Regions from separate parts of the Homo sapiens genome. Here regions 1, 2 and 4 are each linked to region 3. The links come from fine-mapping of genetic effects on plasma protein levels. A gene starts in region 3. Each other region holds a variant in brackets. All regions are shown on one strand. Distances are from middle to middle. Region 1 overlaps MYO18B (myosin XVIIIB). Region 2 overlaps SEZ6L (seizure related 6 homolog like). Region 3 holds the start of SEZ6L (seizure related 6 homolog like). Region 4 overlaps SEZ6L (seizure related 6 homolog like).

Evidence for each region. PIP is the posterior inclusion probability: the model's chance that the variant is causal. The UK Biobank Pharma Proteomics Project read protein levels with antibody pairs (Olink). The fine-mapping took linkage between variants from a reference panel, not from the people measured, so its PIPs are less certain.
Region 1: its variant is fine-mapped to the plasma level of the SEZ6L protein (UK Biobank, PIP above 0.99).
Region 2: its variant is fine-mapped to the plasma level of the SEZ6L protein (UK Biobank, PIP above 0.99). The variant lies in the coding sequence of SEZ6L. If it changes the protein, the assay may bind it differently, which can mimic a change of level.
Region 4: its variant is fine-mapped to the plasma level of the SEZ6L protein (UK Biobank, PIP above 0.99).

Annotation. Positions count from the first base shown.
Region 1 is chr22:25,968,298-25,973,445 of GRCh38, reverse strand. All of the region lies in intron 39 of MYO18B (myosin XVIIIB), which reads right to left. Among named protein-coding and RNA genes, the nearest start is that of MYO18B-AS1, 71 kb to the right of the region's middle. RefSeq lists enhancers at 1,667-2,457, 2,458-3,250. The variant A/GTTTATA (reference allele first, on the strand shown) is at 2,626.
Region 2 is chr22:26,290,645-26,295,792 of GRCh38, reverse strand. SEZ6L (seizure related 6 homolog like) reads right to left here. Exons shown (of 17, transcript NM_021115.5): 2 at 2,647-3,387; 3 at 1,368-1,501. Among named protein-coding and RNA genes, the nearest start is that of SEZ6L-AS1, 47 kb to the right of the region's middle. The variant C/A (reference allele first, on the strand shown) is at 2,928.
Region 3 is chr22:26,167,018-26,172,136 of GRCh38, reverse strand. It overlaps SEZ6L (seizure related 6 homolog like), which reads right to left and starts at 2,675. Exons shown (of 17, transcript NM_021115.5): 1 at 2,374-2,675. The coding sequence starts at 2,467. It overlaps LOC105372971 (a long non-coding RNA gene), which reads left to right and starts at 2,903. Exons shown (of 6, transcript NR_188586.1): 1 at 2,903-3,134. RefSeq lists an enhancer at 757-1,696 and a silencer at 2,523-2,652.
Region 4 is chr22:26,364,805-26,369,952 of GRCh38, reverse strand. SEZ6L (seizure related 6 homolog like) reads right to left here. Exons shown (of 17, transcript NM_021115.5): 13 at 4,387-4,581. Among named protein-coding and RNA genes, the nearest start is that of ASPHD2, 62 kb to the left of the region's middle. RefSeq lists a silencer at 2,073-2,192. The variant G/C (reference allele first, on the strand shown) is at 2,446.

The sequences.
Region 1 (5,148 bases), 200 kb after region 3:
AGAAAACTGGAGGAACTCCAGGCCAAGAGCCACTGGGTTCTGTCCTACGTTCTGTGTTCTATATTTCTATGGTCTGAAGGTTCTAAGAGGTGCTATTGTTCTATGTTCTAAAAATGCAAAGCCCTGAAGGGCAGATGTGCTCAGGAAACCCTTTTGATTGATATTCACAGCCACCACCACCACCCCATTTTTAAGAGTAAGCTCTCACTTTTGCATGTGTGAATGTTTCATGGGTTCACTCGGCAATTAGTAAATATTGGAACACCTACTAAGTGTGTGGTTAGCTTCTGGACCCCACACTGGAAGCACCAAGAAGAAAGTGATGCTTAACAATAGGAAGTAGATAGTGTCCTTCAGAAACAAGATCTAGAAGCAAAAAAACAAATCAGTAATACAGAGGCAGGAACCATAGCTAAATTGTGTAGTGGATTGTGTGGGTGAGATCTGCATGGGAGGAGATCCTATCTCTTTTTTTTTTTTTTTTTTTCCTTTGAGACAGAGTCACTTTGTCACCCAGGCTGGAGTGCAGTGGCACGATCTTGGCTCACTGCAACCTCCACCTCCTAGGTTCAACCAATTCTCATGCCTCAGCCACCGGAGTAGCAGGGATTACAGGCATGCACCACCACACCCAGGTAATTTTTGTATTTTTAGTAGAGAAGGGGTTTCGCCATGTTGGCCAGGCTGGTCTCCAACTCCTGCCCTCAGGTGATCCACCTGCCTCGGCTTCCCAGAGTGCTGGGATTACAGGCGTGAGCCACCGTGCCCAGCCGAGATCTCGTCTCTAACCTCTCTCAGCCTTAGTCTCCTCACCTGCAATTCAGTGCTGATGAAATACCGACATCAGGGCTCCTGCCATGCTGCTGTGCCTAGGAGTCACCTGGGACCTTGTTAAAAAGCCAATTCTGACTCAAAGGTGTGGGGCTGAGCCTGAGACTCTACATTTCTATAGCCAAGGCTGCTGATCTGCGAATATATTTTGAAAAGTAAAGCCATAAGTCACACGAAATTGAAGAGAATTAAATGACATGAGGTATAAAACATGCTCAGGCCTGGCACAAATGATAGGCTGTTATATAAGTAATAATAACAAGTAAATACAAGCTATACATAATGCAACTTAAAATATACCTCCAGCTGACATCCTTAACAGATGCAAACCAAGCAAGCAACTAACCACAGAATCACAAATCGGGGTTCTGGTCACACTTTTCCTATGTATATATATATGCATATATTCATGGAAAAATATATATGTAATGACCTGTGAGTCATATATAAATATAAAATACATATATTTTATTTATATATATATGTATGTATTTTTTTTTTTGAGACAGTCTCACTCTGTCACCCAGGCTGGAATGCAGTGGCATGAATCCCAGTGATCCCAGCACTTTGGGAGATAGAGGCAGGTGGATCACCTGAGGTCATGAGTTCGAGACCAGCCTGGCCAACATGGCAAAACCCCGTCTCTACTAAAAAAATTTTTTTTTTTTGCCCTTTCAGGTTAAGTGAATCTTAACTATGAGTATCAGCACACATAAGTCTGAATTGTCCCTAGGACCCTGTTTGAAAATCATACCAGTTAAAATGCAAACATGATTGTTAGATTTGACATGCAGCCATGTCTTTGGCTTACAGACAACAAGTCTTTAATGTCGACCCAACTACAACAAAAACTACTCTCTCTAAACAACAAAAGTGCATAAACAGAATCTTAATTTGCATACTTGGGATTTCCTAACTGAGGCCGCGCCTTTGTGATGGAAACGAAATAGTCTGAACACAGGAAGGCATCTTGGTGTGGGAAGGCACTGGTAGGAACAGACAACAGAAGGATCATCCTGGGAAACTCAGAGCTGCCAGACTCTCAAATGAGCTACAAAAAGATCTGCATCACTGAACTGTAACCATAGCTAGGGCCAACAGGAAAGCAGACAGCCTTCTTTATTTGGTTTCACTCTCTCATGTTTTTTGGCTGGGGTCAGCGGGTGAGTACTACAAAGAATTACAATTTATTGACCACTTAACATGTGCAAAACATTCTAATCTCCCAACTACCTGATAACCCATTCTACAGATGAAGAAACAAAGACTCAAAGAGGACAGGTGCCTGAAAGAGATCGAGACAAGATTTAAACCCAGCTCTGCTGTCTGCCTCCAACTCCACTTCTTCTTCCAACAGAGCATAGAGCAAGAGTTGGCCAACTACAGCCCGTGGGCCAAATCCAGTCCACCATCTGTTTTTCTAAATAAAGTTTTATTGGAACATAACCACGCTCATCTATTCATTCATTTGCATAATGTCTAGGGCTGCTTTTGTGCTGCGACAGCAGAGTTGAGTAGTTGTGACAGAGACAGTATGGACTACAAAGTCTAAAATATTTACTACCTGTCCCTCTACAGAAAATACTTGCCAGTCCCTGGATCAGAGCATCCAGTTGCTACCTGTGTGCAAACTCAGCAGGCTCTCAGAAAGAAGCAAAAACCGAAAATCATCTTATTTCTTGAGTTCCTTTCCTTTTGTTTGCTGAAAAGTGACATCAGTCTTTTTTCTTCTCCCCACCCACCAAGCAATTAGCTCACAAAGGCAGGAGCCTGAAGGATTCCCCCTGAGTGTTT[A/GTTTATA]AGTCTCTCTCCAGCAGGACGCTTTGTCTCCAAACCACTGCCAAACTTTAATAACAGCATCAACCACATCATCTTCCACCAAAAGCAAACAGGAAAGCTAGTTCTGCCGCCCAGCTGGGTGGATGTCAGCTGCAGACAGCTGCAAATTGCCTGAACAAGGACAGATGTAGCTTGTTTTTGCCTTTCTTTTTCCATTTGAAAACTTTGAGAGGGGGAGATGAGAATGCTGTTAGGGAAATGAATGTGTTGATTCTAATTATCCAAGCGGGCGGGCGGCAGAGGTGACATGCAGCAAGATGGGCTCCGAGTCATTTACCTGGAATGCAGCCAAGACAAGGCTGGAGAAGGCAGAATTCCAATGAAGCTGACACTCAGGACACTGAGCACAAAGAAGGAGGCATCTATGAACTCACAGGTCACAAGGTGGGGTATACTGCATTTGGGGACGTCATTCACAGAATTTTCAAATAGGAAATAATTCAACCACTGGCCTAGACTTATATGCCTGCTCTGAATCACAGGGCTTGCCTACTCTTGAAGGGGCTCTGCAGTGCTCTTTGATTCTAGTCTCACTCTGATAATGATGTGATGATGATGGCGGTGGTCACAGTGATGAGAGTGATAATAATAATTTTCATGATGGTGGTGGTGGTAATGATGGTGATGATAATGATGGTGGTGATCAAGATGATGATTGATGGTGATGGTGATGATGATGCAAATGGTGGTGATGATGACAGTGATGAAGATAATGATGGTAATGGTTGTGGTAACAATGGAGGTGATGCTGATGGTGGGAATGGTGGAAAAGATGATGTGTTGGTGGTGATGGTGGTGGTGATGAAGAAGATGATATGGCAATGATGATGATAATGATGATGATGATGGTTATTATGATGATGATGATAGGCGGGCTTACTTTGTGCCAGGCACTGTAATAAGTATTTAAACACATTATTTTATTAAGTAATCCCCACAATGCTGTGAAGCAGTTGCAATAATTGTCTCCATTTTATGAGTTAACAGGGAAACAGAGAAAGTGAGTGCCTTGACTAAAGTCACACAGTAAGGACATGATGGAACTGAGATTTGCATCTAAGTCTCCTTATTCCCAGTTCTTTGTCCTGTCAAGCTCTTTCTTCTCTCAGCATGTATTTTTTTATGCCTACTCTGTGCTAAGCAATGTTCTAGGGCAAAGGTAAGTGATTTTTTTTTCTGTAAAGGACCAGGTAGTATATATCTTGGACTTTGTAGGCCAAATGGTCTTATCACAAATACTCCTCTCTGCTGTTGTAGCCCCAAAGCAGCCATAGAAAATAGGTAAATGTTTGTGACTATGTCTTAATAAAACTTTATTTATAAAAATCAGGACAGCAGCCAGATCTGACCATAGGTTATCAAGCTGTATTTTATGGTGCTGCCTCAGGGGCCAGGGTGGAAAAGTAGATGAGCCCTAATGGGGAGCTCTGCTTTTACTTACCACAAATCTGTATCAGCTATGGATTTAAAATAAGATTTGGCTACTTAAAAGAAGAAAAAAACGTGGTAATCTCTGGATACCTCCTTGCTAACTCCCAGGTGAGATAAGCAAGGGATATCTCTCTGTCCTTTGAAACCCTCTCTCCAACAGATAAGGTGACACATCTGGAATCCAGTTGTGGGGTAGCTATAGAATCAATCTAGAATGGGATGGAGAAGGGGAGGTCTATGGGAATGTTGTTGCCCACAGAGGTAGTAATTTCCCCAACCCCACAGTTGCATAACAGAGATGGAATTTTTACCAGTCTGAGGTTGGAGAAGATACCAGTTGGAATGAAGAGGCCTGGGCACCTTCAGGTTTGAGATTGTGTGACTCTGTGCATTGCTCTTGGGGTGTAGGAATGTGCTTGTTTCAGAGGAAGCTGCCACCATGACTATCAGCCATTTGAGACACACTCAAAGCTTGCAGCTCTATGACCAACCAGCTCTGGGCTTGCCCAGGGGTCTCAGCAGAAAGAGCTTTAAAAGTCGTCTGGTCCGTTTTACAGAGAGAGAAAGTGAGTCCAGCAAGGGAAAAGATGTGCCCAAGTCCACAGAGTCAGTCAGAGGCAGAAGTGTGGCTTGGACCCAGACTTCCTGGCTTCAAGGCAAGCTCCTCCTACTGTGTGAGCCACTCCCTTTGAGAAGATAGAAAGGGAATTTAGGCTGTCCACTTCCGGCCTCCATTTCCTTTCTTTGATCCACCCTACTTATGGGATGTCCCAGCCCCAGGAGTAACAGAAAATATACAAAAAGGAGGAGGAAAAAGTCAAGCAGGAGGCAGGAACACAAGCAGAGAAGATAAAACCTAGAAGGGGCCTGTGGCAAGGCAGAGAGATCTCTGCAAGAGTCAAGGCCCACAGATGTGGCTTCCACAGTGGGCATCCAAAGGCTTTGCCTTTTTGGAAACCATTTCTCCTCCTTCTGGCACTAACATTTCAATTTTCCTTGGGGGAATCTATTCTTCTACTCTCCATCCATATGGCTAGGGTGGAGCTGACTCTA
Region 2 (5,148 bases), 120 kb before region 3:
CAGGCATTGCATCAGTTTTTTACATCAACATATTCTCCTGTGTCAACAGCTTTGCCTGGTGCATTCTAATTGCTCAATGAATGAACTCTACTGTGCCTGGTAAAAGGCTCCACACAGTACTGGACACATACTGGGTCCAATACTCTTCATGACATGGAGGAAAGGGTTCTTAAGCACTATAATAATCTGGACTGCAGGTTTTCTCCAGTTTATTTTAATTCCATGAACAATTATTAAGGACCTACAATGTGCCACACACTTGTGCAAAGCTCTGGGGACTGCAAAGACTACAGGTTCTACTGCTGAGGGGCTTACCTTTTGTCTCTCTTATACAAGTAAAACAAAAACAAAAACAAAAAACCTTCCTAAGGTAAGGTCATACACCTGCCCCAGCTCAGAAACTTTTGATGGCTCTTTATTTCCCATGAGAAAAAGGAACACATTCAGGGTGATTAGCATACTGAAGATAATGGATAACATGCACTGCATGGTCGCGATTTCTGCTGGGCTCTGACCAAATGATTTCTCTCTCTCTCCTCCCTCTCTCTCTGCTGGGCTGTGGCCAAATGATCTCTGCATTGTCATATTTACTGCTCCCCCAAACTTTACAAAGCAGTAACATTATTCCTATTTTATTGATCGGGAAACTGAGGCTCAGAGAGGTGAAGTTCCTTGTTCAAAGTCACGCAGTTTTAACTGGAAGAGGTAGGACTTAAAACCCAGATGTTTGAGCATTATGCCACCCTGCTTTTCCTTTCTTACTGTATGGGCAAAAGTTTAAGAATAAAATGTCCTAATAACCAGAAAATGAAGGAAAGCAAGCAAGCAAGCAAGAAAGAAAGAAAGAAAGAAAGAAAGAGAAAGAGAAAGAAGCAAGAAAGCAGGAAGCAAGCAAGCAAGCAAGAAAGAAAGAAAGAAAGAGAAAGAGAAAGAAGCAAGAAAGCAGGAAGCAAGCAAGCAAGCAAGAAAGAAAGAGAAAGAGAAATAAGGAAGCAAGCAAGCAAGAAAGAATCAAATGAATCAGGTGGAGCTTCCGTGTGTGTGTGTGTGTGTGTGTGTGTGTGTGTGTGTTTATGCACGTGCATGCGTGTGTGTATGTGTGTGTGAGATAAGCAGAGTATCAAGGGATTTTCCTTCTGGGAAATACCTCAGAATTTGTCAGCATGTTCCCTCTATCCCCACAAGCTATTTTAGCAAAGCATTGAGTTAAGAACTCCTACTCATTCGCCAAAACCCAGCTAAAGTTGGCCTGGTTGGGCAAAGACAGAACCAAACTAGTTAGCATAACAGTAAGCCTGACTCAGACAATCCTCCTGAGACTTCCTGCTAGACGAGGCAGCCTCTGTGAGGTACTCTCCTGGGGTTACCTGGAGCTCCACCCCATAGCCAGTGTAGACTGTCACGTTGTATGTGCACTCCAGAAAGTTGTTGAGGGGCAGCAGTGGGTAGTCGCTGGAGTCAATGTACCCCTCAGGATTGGAGAAGCTCACACTGCAGAGAGCTGGAAGGAAGGACTTTAATTAGGACACCAAAGACAACTTGGATGTAAGCTCAACCATGGGCTGTGGGGTGGAATGGGGGCTTTAGGGGAACCTGCATTTTGCTGTTCCCATCTGTCCTTCTGCTGTTAATTCCTCAGCTCCAGAATTGACATGATAATAAAAATAGCAATAATTGACACAGAATGATCACTTACTATATCCTGCTAGGCACCATTTTAGCTAGTCAACAGGGGTGACCCCACTTATTCTCATAGGGACTGATAATATTTCATCCCCAGTTTAGAGGGAAGTAAACAAAAGCTCAGAGAGGGGCCGAGCTCAAACAGCAAGCAGGATTTGGACCCAGAGCTCACGTGCTTTGAAGGGTGGCCACATTGCACTTGTCCAAAATCCATGTATGCTTGACAATTGGGGGTCCTTCTCCCATTTTAAAGATGGTAGAGAAGACTGGAACACAGAAGAGCATTTTATCAAGTCTAGAAAATACATGTAATGCTAAAAGCAAATGTGCTTTGAAAAGGCTAGTGGCTTTGAAGCAGGTTAAATGAAGAATTCCGTTCCAAGATGAAAAGGTTTTGAATCTTGCTCATTAGCTGTGTGACCTTTGGCAGGTTGCTTGGGGGTCTCAGGGTTTCAGTTGTCTCATCTTTAAAATGGGGATGTTGGCTGAGTGTCCTGGCTCATGCCTGTAATCCCAGTGCTTTGGGAGGCTGAGGTGGGAGGATTGCTTGAGCCCAGGAGTTCCCCAGCCTGGACAATAAGCAAGACCCCCTTTCTACAAAAAACAAAAAAATTAGCTGGACATCATAGTGCATGCTTGTAGTCCCAGCTACTCAAGAGGCTGAGGCAAGAGGATCACTTGAGCACAGGAGTTTGAGGCTGCAGTGAGCTATGATCGTGCCATGGCACTCCAGCCTGGGCGAAAGATCAAGACCCCTTTGCTAAAACAACCCCCCAAAACAACAAACAAATGAAATGAGGCTATTAATTCTGAGCCACAGGGCGAAGCTCATAGTCAGTGCTCAATGGACGGTAACTGATGGTGGGGCCGGGGCTTCTTGAGATTCCTCTACCCACATGCCCTGAACATAGTGAGTGCCTCATGGCTGTTTCAGGATGGCTTCAGGAGTTGGGGGCTGCATACCTGGTGCCTGCTCGGTGGTGATGACCGTGGTGGTGATAATGGTGGAGGTAGTGGTCTCCTGGCTCTCCTCTGAGGCTGACCCAGTCAGCTCATTCTCACCTTTGTCCATCAGGGCCATGGGGCTGGTGTCCTCCTGGGGGGCCTCCTGGGCCATGTCAGGCCCAGGCTCCCCGGGTTCTGGCCTCTGGGGGAGTGTGTGGGCCACATAGGGCTGCGAAGTGAAGGGGGAGATTTGCAGGGGTGCGGGTGTTGTAGGGACCGCACTCTCCTTTCGGTCCAGC[C/A]AAAGGGGCACTTCTGATGCCTCCTCGGAGGCCACGATGGGGTCCGGGTCCCCCGGTGGGCCAGGCTTCTCCGTGGAGGAGGAGAGGAGATCTAGGCCCTGGGACGCTGGCTGGGACCCTGCCCTTTGGACAGTGGCTGCGGAGGTGGCCTTGGGCCTCAGCTGCTTCCTGGCAGAGTTCACCTGCTTGAGCGAAGGCAGTTTCTTCTTGGGGGGCAAGGCGTGCTTGGGGCGGGCCTCCTCTGGAAGCAGCGGTGACAGGGCTGGGATGTCGTGATGTGCAGAGGGTGCGGTCCCATCCAGCACCAGCTCGCCCAGCACTTCCGCCGACTGTGAGGAACTGGGGGGCGCTGTTACCACTCTCTCTTCAGGGTGCTCTTTGCCAGGACTGCCTCTCTCCGGGGCTCCTGAGGGCAGGAGGTAAGGACCCAAAGGGCTAGCATCTCCCTCGGGAAGAGCATCTTGGAAGAGGAGAAAAGACACCAGTTAGTTTGGGGAGATTTAGGACCTTCACCTGCTGTCAGACTCTGAGGGTGGCCCTCCTAAGGGCGGTGCCCAAAGCTCGTCCGGCTGGCCTCTAAACCAACTTCTCCTTTCTCCCTCCCTCCCTTCCTTTCTTTTTTCTCCTCCTTCCCTCTCTCCCTCTTTCTCTTTTCTTCCTTCTTTTCCTCCCACCCTCCCTCCTTCCTTCTTTCCTTCCTCCTTCCTTCCTTCCTTCCTTTCTTTCTTTCTTTCCTCCCTCCCTCCTTCCTTTCCCCTTCCATTTTTTTCTTTCTTCCTTCCTCCTTCATTTTCTTCCTTCATTTCCTTCCTTCTTTCCTTCCATCCATCCTTCCTTCCTTCCTTCCTTCCTTCCTTCCTTCCTTCCTTCCTTCCTTCCTTCCTTCCTTTTCCTGAAGACTTGGGCTTGATCATGCCAGGACTGAGCTAAGCATTAGGAGTATAGAAACAAAAAGCACAGGGGCCTCACTGCCTGGTTGTATATGTACTGGGAAGGGGGATGGGAAAGTAGACACAATCATATTTGATATGATGAATGCTTGGAAAGAGAAAAGCTTGTGTGCTAAGAGAGCAGAGAGGACGGGCCCTAACCCCGTCTGCAGGACAGGCATGCCATGTACAGTTGGGCAGATTGTTCCCTGTACAAAGACATGCAGCTAAGAGGATGAGTGGGGATGGACACCAGGCCACACTCTCTTTTCTAAGCTGTGTGCTCTGGCTGGGCTTGGGGGATGGGGGAGGAGAGTTTTTTTAAATTTAAATTTTAATTTTAAGTTCTGGGGCCTATGTGCAGGATGTGCAGGTTTGTTATGTAGGTAAACATGTGCCATGGTGGTTTGCTGCACCTATCAACCCACGCTAGGTATTAAGCCCAGCATGCATTACCTATTTTTCCTAATGCTCTCCCCTCCCCCAACTCCACCCCGCAACAGGCCCCAGTGTGTGTTACTCCCCTCCCTGTGTCCATGTGTTCTCATTGTTCAACTCCCACTTATAAGTGAGAACATGTGGTGTTTGGTTTTCTGTTCCTGCCTTAGTTTGCTAGGGATAATGTCTTCCAGCTCCATCTATGTCCCTGCAAAGGACATGATTTTGTTTGTCTTTATGGCTGCATAGTATTCCATGGTGTACATGTACCACATTTTCTTTATCCAGTCTATCATTGATGGGCATTAGGTTGATTCCACGTCTTTGCTATTGTGAATAGTGCAGCAATGAACATGTGCATGCATGTATCTTTGTAACAGAATGATTTATATTCCTTTGGGTATATATGTAATGGGACCCAGTAATGGGATTGCTGAGTCAAATGCTATTTCTGGTTCCAGATCTTTGAGGAATCTCAGCACCATCTTCCACAATGGTTGAATTAATTTACATTCCCACCAACAGTGTAAAAGCAGGGTTGGGGGAGGTACATTTTAAACTGAAGGAATGTAAGAGTGACCTTGTGGGAGACACAGAAATGTTTTAGGATTCAGAGTCACGAGGCAGATTCAGAACAGAGGACTGTGTGAAGACCCATGGAGGCTTGGAGGCTGGGCAGAGGTGGGCACAAAAGAATTGCAAGGGGTTTTGGAGCACAAGTGGAGAGTACGGGGGATAAAGCTGGTAAGGTAGGGAGGCAGGGGCCAGGCCCTGGAGGGCCTTGTATACCTTGCTAACTTCTTGTAATTCATTTTGTTTTTTCTTGAGACGGATCTCACTATGGCTGGTTGCAA
Region 3 (5,119 bases):
TGCATGTAGTTACAATTATTCCCCATGTGCATATCTGAGACAATAAGGAGGCTCTTCAAAAACAAGTTATACTTTATACTTATTCATGCCTTACAGCGAAATGGCCCAGAGAACCACGTGACCTGCATCAGAATGTAGCAACAAGTCCCTTTTGAGTATTTACAAATCCCCTCACTTCACCGCAAGCAGAAGAACTAGTTCGCAACAACGAGTTAGGTGAATGGTTCTCCATCTGACATTAGTGGATGTTGGGCTCTACATTAAAAATAGAATTTATTGTGGAAGGTCAATTGTCTCCAAATGCACCATCAGACTCGGCAATGCTCATTGGCCAGTATCACTCCCTCCTTATGACTCAGAGTCAGAACCACACACTTATTAATGAGCTTTCTGAAGTAGCACATCAATTGACTTTAATTTGGTGGTGACCTGAAGTCAATTTAAAAAATATGCTGGCTAGCCATGGTGTTGAGCAGTTGGAAAAATAGTATGAAATGTCTTAAAAATTAAAACACACACATGTCTCCCCCTGCTCTTACAATGTGTTTGCAGCCCGTGAAGGAAACAGAATAGGAAATCCTTGTCTTAGATGACAATTCAATACGTGCCATTAAGACAATTTTTTTTTCCCTGCAAGGTGGTGTATTGGAGAGTGGAGTTCTCAGAGGTAGAACTGCTTTAGAAAATCCAGTAAGCTGCTGGGTAGATTCAGGTTCTTTTTATATGTGTGTTAGTCACAACACAGATTCAAAAGGGGGTGGGGGAGGGAGAGCTGGACTCAGTTCAAGGCCACCAAGCCATTGTTAGAAAGAGACAGCTAATTAAGAAAGGCCATGCTGTGGTGGAAACGATTTGTTTAAACCAAATCTCTTTCCCTATCTTTCCCAGAGAAACTGTCCAGACCTGGTGTAAATTGTGGACATTATTGCCCCATAAAAAAGGGGTGGGGGTTCTTCAATGATATGCTTTGTTAAACAAAAGGTGATGAACAATTTCCTTTGCTCTGCACTCTGGGCTCTACATTTAAAAAGACGGGGAGATGGGGGATAAAATGCCTGATTTATGCTGAGGGGGGCACTCCAGGCCACCGGGAAGGGTTGAAGGGAAAGGGACCCAGAGCCAGGGCCCATGGAGCTGAGAGCTGTCCAGGGCCTTTGGTGCTGAAAGCAGGTGCGCGCGCTGGGGGTCCAGAACTCCCCGGAGAAGAACACCGCCTGTCCCCCAACTCCGAGTCAAGACGGTGCAAATGACAGAGGCGGAGCCCCAGATAAGCATAGTGCCTGCGCTCCCTCTGTCTTCAGCCTGGGCAGACCCTGCAGCTGTCTGCTTTTTTACACGTGAGGAGCGCATTTCTGGGACCTTGCAAGAAGGCCGGGTCCTGTGGCCAACTAACCCTCCCATTGATTTTCGGGTCTCCTAGGTGCCTGAGAAAACCCCCGAAGCTCTGAGGGTTAGCTTTGGGTGAGTTAGGCGTTGCACCCCTCTCTCTATCTGGCCCTCTCCCCCACCCATAACTTTTCCTGGGGTACCTTACCGGGGTGGAGAGAGGGTATGGTTCCAGGTCTGAGAAAGAGGAGCTGTCATTCTCTGCTAAATTTGGGCCCCTCTTCCCCTTCAACAAACACGTGGTAGATGAAACTAACACCCCTCACCCCCCATTCCTAACAGTGATCAGAGATGCTAGGCAGTAGGGGAGAGAGTAGAGGGGAGCCCGTTCAGGTTCCCAACTGCTAACTAACATCTCTTCTCCCTCCCCTACCAAGTTCTCAGAGCCCTCAGCCCCCTCCACCGGCCTCTAGCGAAAGCCACACCCAAGTCCGGTATCCTGACGCTTGGCTGAGATCGATCCAGGAACACAGACCCTCGGGGTAGCCTGAACCAAAGGAGTCAAGGGTTTCTGTGGTGTCGGGGGGAGCGGCAAATGCACTGTTTGAGTCTAGTCCTCAGTTGCAGGGTGGGTCAGCTTCTCACCCCCCTTCCTGTCCTCTCCCGGAGAGGAAGATAATTATCTGGCACCTAGCCCCGGGTGCGGTTGCAGAGAAGCGCCGGGAATTTGGGGTTTGGAGGCGACCCCACTCCAAGGAGAACCTCTTTGGCTGCAAAGGAGAATCAGCCCCGCAGCCGGGGAAGACCGAAAGGGAGCCCGCAGCCGAAGCAGGGAAGCGCCCGAGTCCTTCAACACATCCCCGCCTCCACACTCCCATCAGCCCGGGCCAAGGGGACGTGCGGTTCCTAGCCCCGATTTTGGACAGCCACCACCGCTTCCCATCCCGGCGGGTGGTGCCTGAGTCGCCCTGGTCAGCCCCGACCCCTGGCTGCCCCGCTCTCCCGGCAACTTTGCCCCCTGCCCGCCCCGCCCCTCGGGGCGCTTACCTCGCTCCAGCGCTGCCGCCGGGCTCCCCAGGAGCAGAGCGAGGAACAGCGAGATCCCGCGGAGTCCCGCGGCGGGCGGCCGGGCCGCGGGCATCGTGGCTGCAGGGGGCGCGGAGCCGCTGGCTGTGGGGCGGGCGGACGGCGAGGGAGCTGGGGAAGGAGGGCGGCGGTGAGCGAGAAAGGGGAAGCGGGAGCGAGGGAGGAGGCCGCGGGCCGGGGCAGCTTCCGGAGCCCCCTGGGCGGACGCGCGCTCAGCCCCGCGGTCGCTCTGGCCGAGCTGCGCCGGGCGCGGGCGGGCGAGTGAGGAGGAGCCGGCGAGCGAGCGAACGAGCGTGGAGCGAGCGGGAGGAGGGAGGGGGCTGGGGCCGAGTCTGTGCCGAGCGAGTGCAGGGAGGGAGGGGGCGGGCGAGCGGGCAGTGAGCTGGAGGGGCCGCGGCGGCGCCGGGGGTGCCAGCCGCCTCCTCTGGCCGCCGGCCCGTCGGCCCTGCAAAGTTTAACGCCAATTCCCCTTGCGTCCTGGGAGCCGAGCGTTTTCTCTCCCTGCTGACGCTCCCAGCAGCTCTGCCTGGCCAGGCCAGGCTGGAGAGCACCCGGACCATTTTCCAGACGGTGAGATGGAGCCCTGGAAACCGAGCTTATGAGCAGCCCGGAGCTTTCCATTGCCTGCCCAGCCTTCCAGATACATCCCAGTTCCAGTTCTTTCCAGAGCCCTCTGGGATCCAGCCAGCCTGCTTCCCCGCCAGGGCCTCACTGCTTCCAAAGTGAGTCCCCATAACCTAGAAAGTCTGTAACTCTGTGGATCTGGTGACAGCTGTGAATCTACTAGAACACTACACATAGCCACAAAATCGTGCATCTAACACGAGGGGGTCTGGACCCCTCTGAAGCCCAATCACGAACTCTAAATTAAGATCCACCTCCACTTTTTAATCTGAGCCCTGTCTCCCATAACCCCACTGCCGGCAGGGCACTAGCGCTGCGAGGCTTCCTCTCAGGTCAGCCGCTTGCCTCTTCCTGTACCCGCTTCCCTATCTGAGCAGGACTACAAGGCCCACCTCTGCAGCATTCTTGCCCAGGCCTGATTCTCAAGCAAAGTCTTTTCTCCACAAATAGAGGTAGTGAGGGACAATCAATGAGGGAGATAAACAGATACTTGGGGACAGACATTGGCAGAGAGCTAGGTGGGGACAAGCTTATGCACAGTCCTGGAGACTGACTGTCTCTCCCTGCGTAGCCTTGGCAGACCGGTCAGGCTTTACAGGCCTCTCACCCAATTTAGAAGCTGTCCTCCTCCCCCTACCCTACCTTGCCATACTATCTACACACTGCAGCCTGAACAGGCAGAGGGAGCAGATGGAGAGAAGGTTGCAGGCAGCAACAGGGGGAGGAATATGTCTTTAGCAGCGTGGTGGAGCCGGGAGTCCCTAGAAAGAATGGGTGGGGGAGGTGAACACTGGATGGAGGAGGGAAGGAGAAGCACTCTGGCCCAGGGTTTCAGAAGACGCTCCACACCCAGAGCTTCCCCATTTACTCACTCAAACAATGCTCTTTTACAGGCCACTGACTATAGGCCCAGACCTGCCTCAGGCTTTGGGGGACAGAGAGCCCCCCCATAAAATCCTATCTTCAGCTGCAAGAGGTTTCCATTCCTGGCAGTAAACCCAACTGGCTTTTATAAAGAAGGTGGCTGAGGCAGGGATGCAGGAGTGCTGATTTCTCCTTTGGAGAAGATGAAGCACTCCATGCTTTACTGTATGAGGCTGCCAGCTCTCTGTGGAATGACCTTGCCTGTTTGTGGCTATACGCTCAGGCTCTGTATAGTATAATGCAGGCATGCAGCGGGTGCTCAGTGAGACTTGTTCAATGGAAACCTAAAGAAGCAAGGAAGATGGAGGAGGAGGGGAAAGGGAAGAAAGCGAGCGAGAGAAAAACGAAGAGGTAGTTTAGCTCCATACTTGGAGGCAAGGAAACTATTTTTAATTCCTAGGTTCAGGGGTACTTGTGCAGGTTTGTTATGTGTGCAAACTTGTGTCATGGGAGTTTGTTGTACAGATGATTTCACCAACCAGGTATTAAGCCTGGTACTCAATAGTAATTTTTTTCTGATCCTCTCCCTCCTCCTGCCTTCCACCCTCTGGTAGGCCTCTGTGTGTGTTGTTCCCCTCTATGTGTCTGTGTGCTCTCATCATTTAGCTCCCACCTATAAGTGAGAACTTGTGATATTTGGTTTTCTGTTCCTGCATTAGTGTGCTAAGGATAATGGTCTCCAGCTCCATTCATGTTTTTGCAAAGAACATGATCTCATTCTTTTTTATGACTGCATAGTATTCCATGGTGTATATGTACCGTATATATGCTCATTCATTGATGAGCATTTAGGTTGATTCCATGTCTTTGCTCTTGTGAATAGTGCTGCAATGAACATACATGGGCATGTGTCTTTATAATAGAACAATTTATATTCCTTTGGGTATATACCCAGTAATGTCAGACAACCTACAGAATGGGAGAAAAATTTTACAAACTATGCATCTGCAAAAGTCTAATATCCAGCATCTATAAGGAACTTAAACAAATTTACAGGAAAAAAACCAAACAACCCAACTGAGAAGGAAACTATTGTGTAAAGAATCCACTGTTTGCCAGGTGCTGTCCCACACCGAGCATGGTCTCTCATTTCAATTTCATAATCTTCCTGAAAACGAGGTGTGGTTATTGCCATCTGAAAGATAAGTATCTGATTTTT
Region 4 (5,148 bases), 200 kb before region 3:
CAAAGCAGGTTTCCTGTGCTATCAAAAATAAATTCAGGTCGGGTATGATGGCTCACGCCTGTAATCCCAGCACTTTGGGAGGCTGAGGTGGACAGATCCCTTGAGCCCAGGAGTTCAAGACCAGCTTGGGCAAAATGACAAAACTCCGTCTCTATTAAAAATACACAAATAAAATAAATTCAAACACTGGGCTGGACTTAGTCAAAATTATGGGGGAATGAGGGAAGGCAGCTGTCTTGAATGCTAATTGTGGATTTCTTACTGTTCGCTGCTCTTCAAAAGGACCCCTTGTTCTCTTATTAGGAACTGCTTACGGCCGGGCGCAGTGACTCCGCCTGTAATCCCAGCACTTTGGGAGGCAGAGGTGGGCGAATCACGAGGTCAGGAGATCGAGACCATCCTGGCTAACACGGTGAAAACCCGTCTCTACTAAAAATACAAAAAATTAGCCGGGTGTGGTGGCGGGCGCCTGTAGTCCCAGCTACTCGGGAGGCCGAGGCAGGAGAAATGGCGTGAATGCGGGAGGCGGAGCTTGCAGTGAGCCGAGATCCAGCCACTGCACTCCAGCCTGGGGGACAGAGCGAGAATCTGTCTCAAAAAAAAAAACAAAAGAACTGCTTATATAAGTCATTGTCATTCACGTGATGAGCCCCTGCTTGATACCTGGTAAGATTAAATTGCAACCCTCATGCTAGTGTTTCCCATACTTGGCTGATGATACAATTCACCTGTGTGGTTAGTTAAACTGGTCCCTGGGTCCTGCTTTAGACCCAGTGAATCAGAATCTCCGTGGAAAGGGCTCAGGACTCCGTTTATGTTTGGAAATCACGGCCTTAAATGGTTCTCACATTCAAAGTGCATTTGAGAGCTTGTTAAAAGGCTTATTCCAGGCCCGCCTCTCAATGATTTTGCTTTGGGAGATCTGGGTTAGATTCGGGAATGTGTGAACACACCTAGGTTTCCATGCTGCGGTGACTGGCTGGTTGGGGGTCTTTCTTAGTAGCCCTGAAGGCGGGAAATTTACAGTCATGAGATGCGGGTTCAAGTCCTAGCTTTGTCTTGTACTAGCTGTGTGGCTTTGGGAAAATCACTTAACTTCTCTGAGCTTCTCCTTCCACATCTGTAAAACAGGTAAGATGGCTCACCTATCTTAGACAGTGGTCATAAGACTTAACAGAGGTGATTCAGGGGAATTGTTTTTTTTTTTAGGTAGATAAAATTCACATAACATAAAATTAACCATTTCAAAGTGTTACAATTCAGTGGCATTCAGCATATTCACAATGGTGCGCAACCATGACCTCTGCCTAGTTCCAAAACATGTTCTTCATCTCCAAAACAAGCCCCATACTCAGTAAGCAGTCCCTAGACAACCACGACTCTGCTTTCTGTCTCTATGGATTTACCTATTCTAGATGTTTCCTAGAAACAGAACCCTAAAACATGTGACCTTTTGTGTCTGGCTTCCTTCACTCAGCATAACGGCTTTGAGGTTCATCCATGTTGTGGTATGTGTCAGTATTTCGTTCCTTTTAATGGCTGAATAATATTCCCTTTTTTCTGCCACACTTTTGTTTATCCATTCATCAGTTGGTGGGCATTTGGGTTGTTTCCATCTCGTGGCTATTGTGAATAGTGCTCCTATAAACATTCTTAGACAGGGTTTGCTTAAATACCTGTTTCACTTCTTTTGGAAATATACCTCGGAGTGGACAAACTAACTGGGAAAGTAGTTTTAAGCCTCAGAGCTGGGGTTCATGAATAAGGCATTTGGGGATCCACTGAAGTTAGGGGTTCCCAAGTAGAGACATAAAACTTCATGCTTCTGTTCCTTCTGGAGGGCAAATTCGAGCCTTTTGCCTGATTCTCAAAGGGGCACTAAAGCAATAAAGGTTAAGATCCACTGGCCTAAAACACTGAACATATTTCCGTTACTATTACTGATTGTGCACTTCAAAAGTCCAGATAAACGAATCCAAATTTTACTTAGTGTGTTACAACTTAATTTTAGTGATGAGTGTTCAATGGATTCTAAGATGCAATTTTCTCACTTCACCATCTGGGAGGTGGGGGCGAGGCTTAAAGCAATAATGTGTAATAATAGCTGCCACCAGGTGGCGCTCACGATTCCCCGTGTGCACAAACTGGGGGCGTTAAGAGTATTAGGGTTTGCAGAACGCCAGGTAACGCCCTGGGAGATCACCCTGTAGGCAGTGGAGGAACACTCCTAACCCATGGGAACTAACTGGTTGTGAGGAGGCAGTGCAAGAGGTGGGAAATAATTAAGCAGGGTTCTCTAAGCAGGGGTCAAAAGCAGGCAGAGGTCAGATGCGGTAATCCCAGCACTTTGGGAGGCCGAGGTGGGAGGATCGTTTGAGGCCAGGAGTAGAGACCAGCCTGGGCAACATAGCGAGACCCCCATCTCTACAAAAATAAAAAAATTTA[G/C]CTGGGCGTGGTGGCGTGCACTTGTGGTCCCAGCCACTCGCGAGGCTGAGGTAGGAGGATAGCTTGAGCCCAGGTGGTTGAGGCTGCAGTGAGTAATGATCACGCCACTGCATTCCAGCCTGTGCAACAGAGTAAGACCCTGTCTCCAAACAAACAAACAAACAAAAACAAACAAACAAATCAACAAAAACCAGGCTGGATCACAGGGCCGGGACTAGGGCAAGGCGAGAGCTGTCTAGGGCGAGAAGTGTACGGAGACTCTTTTTTTAAGGCTGTTCTACGGGACGCTTGGTCACCTCCTTACATTTTTCACCTCAGGCACCTCTTTTGCCTCAGACTCGTCCCAGCCCTGCCTCAATGTAACTGCAAGCCCCTTGTATCAAAGACTTTAGTTCGTTATGGACGTTCCTACAGAATTCTGCATCCCTGATGCTTTAATGGGACAGGAGCTATGTATGTATGTAAATGTATATATATTTTAGTACACAATGACATTCAACAGGAGCGATATTGAGTGGAAAAATAGGATGTTGAAGACTTGGAGTAAAAAATGATTCTACAGCTGGGTGTGGTGGCTCATACCTGCAATCCCAGCTACTCAGAGGCAGAGGAGGGAGGATCGCTTGAGGTCAGGAGTTCTAGGCCAGCCTGGCCAACATAGCAAGACCCTGTCTCTACAAAAAAATTTAGTAATAATTTAGAAAATCAAAAGTGCCAGACTTTGAAGGTGGGGAAGTTTTAAATACACTGGAACCAGTTTATTTTGCTTGTATTTTGTTTGTTTGTTTGTTTGTTTGTTTGAGACAGAGTCTCACTCTGTCACCCAGGCTGGAGTGCAGTAGCATGATCATAGCTCATTGCAACCTCTGTCTCCTGGGATCAAGTGATCCTCCCACCTTAGCCTCCCAAGTAGCTGGGACTACAGGCACACGTCACCACATCAGGTTAATTTTTGTATTATTATCATTATTTTGTTTTTGTAGAGACAGTTTCACCATGTTACCCAGGCTGGTCTCAAACTCCCCGGCTCAAGCAATCCTCCCACCTCAGCTTCCCAAAATGCTAGGATTACAGGTGTGAGCCACTGCACCTGGGCTGCTTATATTTTCATTTGAACATTTTCATAATTGTGATATATGATAAAAAGCTTAAAGACCTTTATGTTTTCATTTTTTAGATAGAATCTCGCTGTGTCACCCAGGCTGGAGTGCAGTGGAGCCACCTCGGCTCACTGCAACCTCTGCCTCCTGGATTCAAGTGATTCTCTTGCCTCAGCCTCCCGAGTAGCTGGGACTTCAGGCATGCACCGCTACGCCCAGCTAATTTTTTTGTATTTTAAGTAGAGATGGGGTTTCACCATGTTGGTCAGGCTGGTCTTGAACTCCTGACCTCAAGTGATATGCCTGCATCAGCCTCCCAAAGTGTTGGGATTACAGGCGTGAGCTACTGTGCCTGGTCAAAAGCTCCTTTAGTAAGTAAAAATAAAAATGCTAAGCCAGGAGAAGACATTGTGTCATAGTATAATTGGCAGCATGTTTTTTTCTTTTTTAGTGGTGCATAAAGTCATGGTGACATCTTAGATTTAATGAAGTACAGCAGCTCAGCTCTATTATTTTAAAATTTAATTTAATTTTTTTGAGATAGAGTCTCGTTCTGTCCGGGCTGGAGTGCAGTGGCATGATCAAGGCTCACTGCAACCTTGACCTCCTAGGCTCAGGTGATCCTCCCATCTCAGCCTCCCGAGTAGCTGGGACTACAGGTGTGTGCCGCCATGCCTGACTAATTTTTTTTTTTTTGGTAGAGATGGGGGTCTCACTATGTTGCCTCGGCTGGTCTCGAACTCCTAGTCCAATTTTTTAGAGCAAGTTCAGAACTCCTGTGAGCCAGGAGCCTGACATCTCCAGGCCCCGTGGACCCTGTGTGGTGAGTAGGTTTCTTTACCTTTACACACGGGCAGGGGCCCGTTCCAGTGGGATGGCTGTCCCAGGATGCAGCGGATGGTCACTTCACCCATGAGCTCAAAGCCTTCGTAGCACATGAAGGTGAGGGACTCTCCTGGCAGGTAGAGTCGCTTGTACAGGATTTGGTATCCATTTTCAGGCAGCCCTGGGTTGTCACATGCCAGGGACTCCTCCGCTGAAATGCAAGCCAGAAGGAGCTCTGATGAGATGATGCAAATCTTTGGGGAGTCCTGCTCAGAACCCGTGTGATCTAGCTTTGGTCAGCCTCTCCAGCATCCTCTCTCTGCATCCCCACCTTGCATCAGACTGTTTTCTATTTCTCAAACTGTTCTTTCTGTCTTCCACCTCTGGGCACAGATTACATACAGGCAAGGTAGAATGAAGTTGGCTGAGGAATCAAGGTTAAAATATGAGTTCTGTTACTTGTTAGCTGTGTGATCGCCAGCAAGTGGCATAACCTTTCTGATCCTTAGTTTCCTCATTAGCATAACGACGATCAAAGTAATATCTATCTCCTAGGAATTTGGAGGACTAAAATAGGTAAGTAAGGAAATGCTTAAGATGTTTTGTTTTTGGCATGTCATACGTACTTAGTAAATGATGGACGGTGGTGGTGTTTAATTATGAAATCTTCTTCTTGCTTTTCACCTGACACCTAACCTGCGCATCCATTATGACTACGTCTTGTCTTTCAATACTCAATCTTCATTTCTCCTTCTCCAGGAAGCCTTCCTTGATGCCT